Linked DNA regions of Homo sapiens: regions 2 and 3 are each linked to region 1. Evidence: fine-mapped expression QTL. A gene starts in region 1. Each other region holds a variant in brackets. All regions are shown on one strand. Distances are from middle to middle.

Evidence for each region.
Region 2: its variant is fine-mapped to the expression of C1orf21 in esophagus muscle (GTEx, PIP above 0.99). The same link has a PIP of 0.9 or more in aorta, esophagus mucosa, gastroesophageal junction, subcutaneous fat, thyroid and tibial artery.
Region 3: its variant is fine-mapped to the expression of C1orf21 in whole blood (TOPMed, PIP above 0.99).

What each region holds. Positions count from the first base shown.
Region 1 is chr1:184,385,472-184,388,236 of GRCh38, reverse strand. C1orf21 (chromosome 1 open reading frame 21) reads right to left here and starts at 1,208. Exons shown (of 6, transcript NM_030806.4): 1 at 869-1,208. C1orf21-DT (C1orf21 divergent transcript) reads left to right here and starts at 1,533. Exons shown (of 1, transcript NR_172919.1): 1 at 1,533-2,484. RefSeq lists silencers at 1,173-1,432, 1,463-1,572, 1,663-1,722.
Region 2 is chr1:184,605,416-184,608,180 of GRCh38, reverse strand. All of the region lies in intron 5 of C1orf21 (chromosome 1 open reading frame 21), which reads right to left. It overlaps LOC107985236 (a long non-coding RNA gene), which reads left to right. Exons shown (of 4, transcript XR_001738328.3): 4 at 1-722. Among named protein-coding and RNA genes, the nearest start is that of EDEM3, 150 kb to the left of the region's middle. The variant G/A (reference allele first, on the strand shown) is at 1,220.
Region 3 is chr1:184,519,098-184,521,862 of GRCh38, reverse strand. All of the region lies in intron 3 of C1orf21 (chromosome 1 open reading frame 21), which reads right to left. Among named protein-coding and RNA genes, the nearest start is that of C1orf21, 130 kb to the right of the region's middle. RefSeq lists an enhancer at 1,054-1,615. The variant C/T (reference allele first, on the strand shown) is at 1,344.

The sequences.
Region 1 (2,765 bases):
CTTTAGAAGAGAAATGAACGAGTGCTGAGAGCCCTTAAGCCCAGGACTTCTCTCACACAAACAGTAAGTGGAAAGGAAAAAACAAAAACAAAAACAAAAACTAACCCTCCGTAGAGGGAGGGAGCAGGGTGGATGATAGGGAAAGGACATTAACCAGCAGACCAAAGGCAGCCGCGGCGGCGGCACTTCGCGAACTGCCTGCAGAGGAGAGTGAAATCTGTTTCGTGTACAATAACCAAGCACCCTCTGGCTGCCTCGCATGGGCACGAATAATAAATACACCGAGGTGGGCAAACAGATGCAACGAAACGAGCCACCCCAAAAAGGTCAAAACTTCAGAAATCCCGGGGGTCAAACCACCCACACAAACACATCAATCAGTCGGAGCGAGAGAAGGGACTTGGATACTTAGCAAAGGATCCTAAATTGTGTTTTTCCTTTCAAGCTCTGGCTTGCAAAGTACGGTGGCTACATGCAAAGCTAGAGGAGAGCAGGAAGGCTGAGGGCGGCAGGGTGCGGGTGGGAAGGGAGGGGTGTCTAACACCAGCCACCCAGGCCTCGATGTGACGAAAGTCGTCAGCAGCCCCGACCACATCCCAGCCCCTCCGCCCAGGCCGGCAGACGCCCCTCGCGGCTCCCCCACCCCAGCTTCCGTCCCTGGCAGCAACCCCGCCAGCCCCGCACCAGCAGCAGCCCCGGCCCGGGCCCCGCGCAGGCAGCGCCACGACCGCGGCTCCCATCCCTTCCGTGCGGCAGACACCCCGCAGGCCTCCCTCCCTGCCCACCCGGGGATGCCCGGGTAGCCGAGCCGGGGCGGGCTGCACCGCCAGCTCCCCCCGCCCCAGAGCAGGCAATGGCTCACACTTACCTTGGGCGTTCGCGGGGGGGCTGAAGGTGGCAAGCCTCCCGCCCCCCGCCCCTGTCCTCCTCGTCTTTTTTCTTCCTCCCTCCTCCTCTTCTTCCTCCTCCTCCCCACAGTGTGTCCGGGGCTCCCCCTCCTCCCCGCCGCTTGGAGTAAGAACCCAAAACCCCGAAGCCGGGCCCGCGTGCAAGCGTGCGGGAGGCGGCGGCGCGCGGCCAGCTCTCCAGTAACTGAGCGCGGCGCGCAGCTCCCAACTAAAGTGTGAAAGAAGCAGCGGCCGCGGCGGCCGCGGCACGGAACGTCCCCCCGGGAGTGGGCAGGGAGCGAGCGGGAGCTTGCGAGGAGCGAGCGAGGGAGGGGAGCTCCTCGCTCAGTCACTCACTCGAGGGGCGGGGGCAGCAGACACTCCCCCACCGCCGGCCCCTCCCCGAGCCTAGCTCCCGCGCGCGCCTGGCTCTCCTCCCCGGGGCGGGGCCTGCGGAGGCCGCCGGGGCGCAGCGCGCTGGGGAGCGGGTTGGGGGCTGCTAGGGCTGCGGGGCGGGAAGGAGGCGGCAGTGTGTGTGTGTGTGTGTGTGTGTGTGTGTGGGCAGGTGTGTGTGTGTGTGTACGTGTGTGCGCGCGCGCCCTGCAGCGGCCGGCCAGCCGGAGGGAAGACCCCGGCGGGAAGACTGCGTCCCGTCCGGCCTTCCCGGGCCTGTCACTTGGGCGGTGGCGTGGGAGCGGCGAGGCTGCTCGGGGGGCAGCCGGGTGGGCCCAGCTCTAGGGGAGATTCGGGTCAGCCCCTGAGCCCAGCCTCCCGGCTGTGCCTGCTGGAAGCAGACGGAGGGAAGGCCGGGCGTCTTTGGCCCACCGCGCGGCCGCTCCCCTCCCGGGCCAGGCTGAACGGGCGGGCGCAGCCCAGAGGCCCGGGCTCTGCCACCGATCCGCCTCCATACTGACCCGAGCTGCGGCGCCTGCAAGATTAATGAAGCATCCGCGATTCGGTAGAGGCGGCACGGGGAGGAAAGACACAAGATCGTGCTGCCCCCCTCTCCCCACCCTTCTCAGCCTCCTAGGACCTAAAGGCGTAGGCTGCGTCTGCTGGGCGCGTCCGGAGTGGTCCAGAGAGATCGCCATCCACCACTGCATCCGTCCAGTTCTTTGTGGACCCTCACAGAAGCTCAATCAATTTCCCACCCTCTGGAAAAGGGTATTTTTCTCTTCCCTGGCATATTGGGTGTTTCTTGTGTGCACCTAATTGATCTTTTTCCATTGATAGCCTTTGGATGTCTTTTGTGCGGCTTCCCCGCGCTTCACTGCTCCCTCATTGCCTTAGACACGCGAGGAATGTCAGGCCCCCAGAGTGAGAACACCCAAGAAAACAATAGGGGCAAAAGATCCTCCCTGGGCCTCGCGGATTATGCACAAACCAGATCATTTCCCACATTCGGCCAGGGTGAAGATGGAAAATGGAAAAGAACGCCATCAGAGTGGTGACACTGACGAGAAAAGCCAATTCATAATTTAGTTTAATGAAATGAGTTAGTAATCAACCACTAATGTCTAGGAAATTGGCCTTTTTTGAAAACTGGTTTTCCCTTTCTCCACCCCTTTTTTTTTCAAATTAAAAGACTAGTATCCCACTGTTGTTGTTTTAATTTTTATTGTTTTCAGGGATGGGGTCTGCTGCCAAGGCTGGATTCGAACTCCTGAACCCAAGAGATCCTCCTCAAGGGATCTTCCCCATCTCAGCCTCCCAAGTAGCTGGGACTACAGGCCAATTCCACCGCACCCTGCCTAACATCACATTGTTCAGGAACCTCAACTTACATTCCATTTTTACAAAATATCCATATTCTGGTTCATACTTCTTGGAGCCCAAATTTTTTGTAGTCTAGCCTCTTGGAAAGGAGCGGTTAAGAAG
Region 2 (2,765 bases), 220 kb before region 1:
AGTAATATTTTGTACCATCTCCTGCTAGCCTCTGCCCTCCTTCTAAGAAATGAAACTACCACCCATTTCTCATTCCCCATCCCCGGGCACAGCAATGTTCATGGGTTTGGTCGGTTTGTATGTTTGGTATCATTTTAGATACTTTGATATTCATCTTATATCGATATAACAAATATACTACACTTTTATGTGTATATGAATATTTAAATATATAACAGATAAAAACACATGCCATTTGTAAATATGCCATGTAAAAACTGATGGTGCTTAATAAATATTTGTTGAATGTCCATCTATAAACAATGTATTTGTGTGTTTTTAATGTACATGGTATCATACAATTTTTATCATTCTGCATAATCCTCTCTTCACTTAATAATTGTATTTGAAATCTATAATTGTGACTCTTTCTCTCTATATATGTATATATATACACACACATATATATGTATATATATACACACACATATATGTGTATATATATACACACACATATATGTATATATATACACACATATATATGTATATATACACACACATATATATGTATGTGTATATACACATGTGTATATATATATCTATATGCTTGGTTTATGTCTCTTAACTGCTGCATAATATTGCACTGTATGAATATGGAGGATTTTAATTATTCATTTCTCCATGGGTGGATACTTAGTTTTCTTCCAGTTTTTTGGCTGTTGAATAAAGAATGCTGCAGTGAACTTTATTGTAGTTTAATTGATGGTTTTTACCGGTTTGCACTAATATTACTTCTTTATATATTATGCCTACAAATCATTTGATGTTTTAAGTGTTATAAATATATTCCAAACTCACTCTAGATCCACACCTGGGAATCATCCGGCCCATTAATAAGGTAGATACTGACCATGATACTCATCCGGCTCCCTGTGCCTGTTTTCAATTTGTAAGAAGCCCAGAAGAGAGGCAGGGTATGATTATGCATCTCTAAGCAAGCCTCCAACAATCAATTTTGTAAATATGAGCTTACAATTTTTTGGTACTCCTTTTTGAATCAACTTAGAAAAATGGAATTGAAGTGAGGGGAGTCTAGAAGTGTCTGCTCCAAGAATGCTTTCTCTAGGAACAGAGCAGAATGTGCCTGCACTTGATAGAATTGTGAAAGAGAGGAATAAAGTGCACCAGAAATAACATAATACTTCAGAATAAATTTTTCAAGCAATGTTCAGAACATAAT[G/A]TGCCTCATAATTCCTTCCCAGCTGATATAAACGGGAATGTCTCATTCTTTGCTATGGAGGGTGCTGTTTAGTGGGAGATGAAAAGTTGAGGGTAAATTGGATAAGACATTCTCTAAAGTTCCTTCCAATGCAAAATGCTATTCTTCCAGATTTGAGGCTCCCTAAAGACAAGAATCCTATTTTATCATTCCTCATTATGTGCCTCTCATGGCCCTGGCTCATTTCTAGGTCCAGAGAACATGTTCATGTCAAGCTTATTAAATGGATCAAAGAAGTCAGTCTTACAATTTCTATGATTTTGTTTGGAGCCCCTTTCCTAAATTTTTTTTGTTGTTGTTACAAGCATATTTAGGCTGATAGTAATACTTTTTTGTTTTTTAAGAGACAAAGTCTTGCTCTGTCACCCAGGCTGGAGTGCAGTGGCACAATCACAGCTCACTGCCACCTCAAACTCCTGGGCTCAAGTGATCCTCCTGCCTCAGCCTCTCAAGTAACTGGGACTACAGGTGAATGCCACCATACCTGGCTAATTTTTATTTTTATTTTTTGTAGAGACAGGGTCTTGCAATGTTGCCCAGGCTGGTCTCAAACTCCTGGCCTCAAGTGATCTTCCCACCTCAGCCTCTCAAAGTGTTGGGATTACAGGCATGGGCCACTACACCTGGCCAATGAATATCTTTTAAAAGGCTTATAAAAGCCTTTCAAATGAGACACAACAATTAAGAGTAAAACTTCCAAACAGAAAAAAATATATAGGGATTCAGCTGTAGCTGTATCCATGCCACTGACTCACTGACTCATTCTGTAATCACAGCTCGAAAGTTAGCACAGGTTATTTAATGGCTCTGTAAGTGTTCACAAGAATCTAACTCCTGAACATGTTTATTACACCACATAGGAGGGAGGTGGATGAATACACTGGAAACTGTGCGATTCTACTACTCTTTCTACAAGGAGATATTTGTACCGTAGGAAGGCACTTGCTCACGCAGGATCCAAGTTTCTAAGTTCTGCATTTTCAGGTTCGGTTTAGCACCACCCCCAACAAGCCCATCCCAAATCCTTCCTGTATAAATGGCCTTGATGGTACAAACACAGGCGACTTCAACCAAAATGAAGGCTACCAATTACAGAGCACATACAACACAGCAAACACTACTGGAGACTCTGTGTATTTTCTTCAATATCCCAGACCAGTTAGTATTATTTCTCAAATTTTATTGGTGAGAAAACTGAGAATCAGAGAGTTTAACTTAACCTGGGGTCACACAGCTGCTGCCAGAGCCAATCCTTGGCTTTGGCCCAGGTTTGAAGCATGGGCTCTTTCTCTTGCACCATGCTGCCTCCTTCCCTTGGCCTCTATCAATCCAATTATCTGGCACTGTGCTTGCTCTATACCTGCTACGCTGCTCCAAGTAGAGATGTCTACTCTAGGAGTCTTCCAGGTAACATTTCCTGCCTTTGTATGCTTCTGTCTCCATTTGAAGCCCAGTGTTCTTATCTGCACCATTCACTCATTCAACAAGTTTCTTAAGCATCTGTTTT
Region 3 (2,765 bases), 130 kb before region 1:
TCTCCTTCAGTAAGTTTATTTCACATATTTGTAATACTGTTAGACTCTTTTGTCACAGTCTGCATTCTATACCGAGATCCCCAGGCTTTCATTTTTGTTTGTGTTTTTAATTTATGTACGTTAAATTTCACTCTCTTTGCTATAAAGCTCTATGAATTTTGACAAATGTATAGTAACATGTACCTACCATTACAGTACCATACAGAATAGTTTCACCATCCTAAAAGAAAAATCCTCTGTGCTTCACCTATACACCCTTCTTTTTTGTACAAATCTCTGGAAATCTACAGTTTTGCCTATTTCAGAATATCATGCAAGTAGAATCATACAGTGTGTATCTTTCAGACTGGCTTTTCTCACTTAGCAATATGCACTTATCCATGTTTTTTTCATGGCTTGGTAGCTCATTCCTTCTTATTACTAAGTAATATTCCATTGTCTGGATGTACTACAGCTTGTCCACTCATCTATTGAAGGACACCTTGGTTGCTTCCAGTTTTTGGTGATTATGAATAAAGCTGTTACCAACATTCACATAAAGGTTTTTGTATGGTTACAGTTTTTCCAATCAGTTGGGAAAATACCCTGGGAGCACGATTTCTAGACATATGGTAAGATTATGTTTAGCATTGTAAGAAATTCAGATCTATTTTGTTTAGAAAAAAAATTATATTGGCCGGGTGCAGTGAGTGGCTCACACCTGTAATCCCAGCACTTTGGGAGGCCGAGGCGAGTGGAGGTCAGGAGTTCGAGACCAGCCTGAGCAATATGGAGAAACACTGTCTCTACTAAAAATACAAAATTAGCCACACATAGTGGCGTATGCCTGTAATCCCAGCTACTCGGGAGGCTGAGGCAGGAGAATCATTTGAACCCGGGAGGCGGAGGTTGCAGTGAGCCAAGATCGTGCCATTGCCCTCCAGCCTGGGCAACAAGAGCGAGATTCCATCTCAAAAAAAAAGTTATATTTCTGTATTTCTATTTATATTAGGCATAAAAACATAAATGATTGTTATGGGGTTTATGCCTGATTTTATTTTTTATTCACTTCTGTATTTCCCAAAGTATGTTTTAAAGTAATTCAAGCAAGTAGTATGTTTACAAACAGAGAAAGGTTAATTTTAAAAGTACAATTAAATAAAGTACAATTATTTAAAGTACAATAAATAAGAAAATAACAGGAGTAAACCAATCCATTAGCTATGGGTGGTTTACTTTGTCTCACTAGATGGCCATCTCCTGGCCAGCAGAGATTGTTTGATTTGAGCTGAAACATTATGAGCAGTAAGGCATCGCTGTGAATCATTAGAATGAGATTCTCTGTTCTCTTTGTCTGCAGTTGG[C/T]GTTCCCTGCTGTTCCTTTAGGTTTCATTGTGCCTCATACTCAGGAGAAGCAAAGGAAACCTGGCCTGATAATGTCAGACCCATGTGCTAATAATGAATCTTCAGCTTCATTTCTGAGACCAAGCCCTACCTCATATTCCAGTTCCACTCACCAGATTCCTGTCTCATTTTATGCACTCAACTGTAAAAATTCTAAAAGAAGTATTTGCCTAAAATTAAGCAAGCTCTCAAGTTATCCAGTTATAAGCAGAAGTTTGCCAGTAAATGAGACTCTGTAATGTACCATTACACTCGAACAGGAACCAAAAAACGGAGTCATCTCATTACATTTTGGGAAATATTGTTGTCATTATCAATTGTTTTACTTTTCAAAGAAGGAAGAAATTTGGCATCTGTTATCATACAGAGCACTGAGTAAATACATTAATCCTATTATGAACATGAAGCAGGCACTTATAATGGTACCTTCATATACTTATTATAATGTTGACAAGCTAAACAATATTCCTCCTCCCTCCAAGGAAGATGTATGAAATTTTTATGCCTCATTATTTATTTCTATGTTTTCTGGATGACAAGAATAAACTCCATTTTCAGAACTACCAAAAACCTGGTAAAAATAAAAATCATAAGGCTGGTGAATCCTGTATCTCCGTTAATACTGGGTATTATTTGCTCACAAATGAAGTCGACAGGAAGAGATGCTTACCGGAGCCGAGACTCCTGGAAACATAATGGTTGCTTTTGATACTCTCACCTCCAAGGCATAAATTATTAATGTTGGGTGAAGCTACCTCACTGAGTTTGCCAATAGATGAGTGAAATTTATATGCTGTGGTTTTATTTTTAGCAACACATAGGGAATAAGAGAGAAATCTGAACAACCTGCAGAAAGTAACACCACTGTGTTATTGTTCTGGGTACTCTAGTAACAGTGGCCCAGCCTTAAAGGTGGCCCTCTCAATTGTCACTCATTTCCCCCGACTCAGGTGTCTCAATGGGGCCACTTGCATATAAAAAATGCTCATGTTTTAGTGAGATAAATAAATCCACTATCTAAAATGACCATGTAGATCAAACAGGATCAAGCTTTGAAGAGAGCTTCTTTCTACTTTCTACTTAAATATCAGGGTCCTGCTCTTAGAGAAGAGGCCAGAAATCTAAAGTATTGTTTATGTTGCTGTATTTCCAAAAGTTAAACAGGAAAGTTTCAGGGGATAAACTAGATGCTATCCTTTACTGGACAGGAGGAGGTCAAGAGTAAATCTGTTCAACCACTTTTAGATAGCACCCTGCATCTAAGGAAAGCATGTTTAAAAGCAATCACATTTTATAACAATGCTGGGAAAAGGGAAGTCATTATCAACACCCCAATCTTTAAATTAGACCAGCAGAGGTCTGTTCTATTTATTCTGTCGTTAC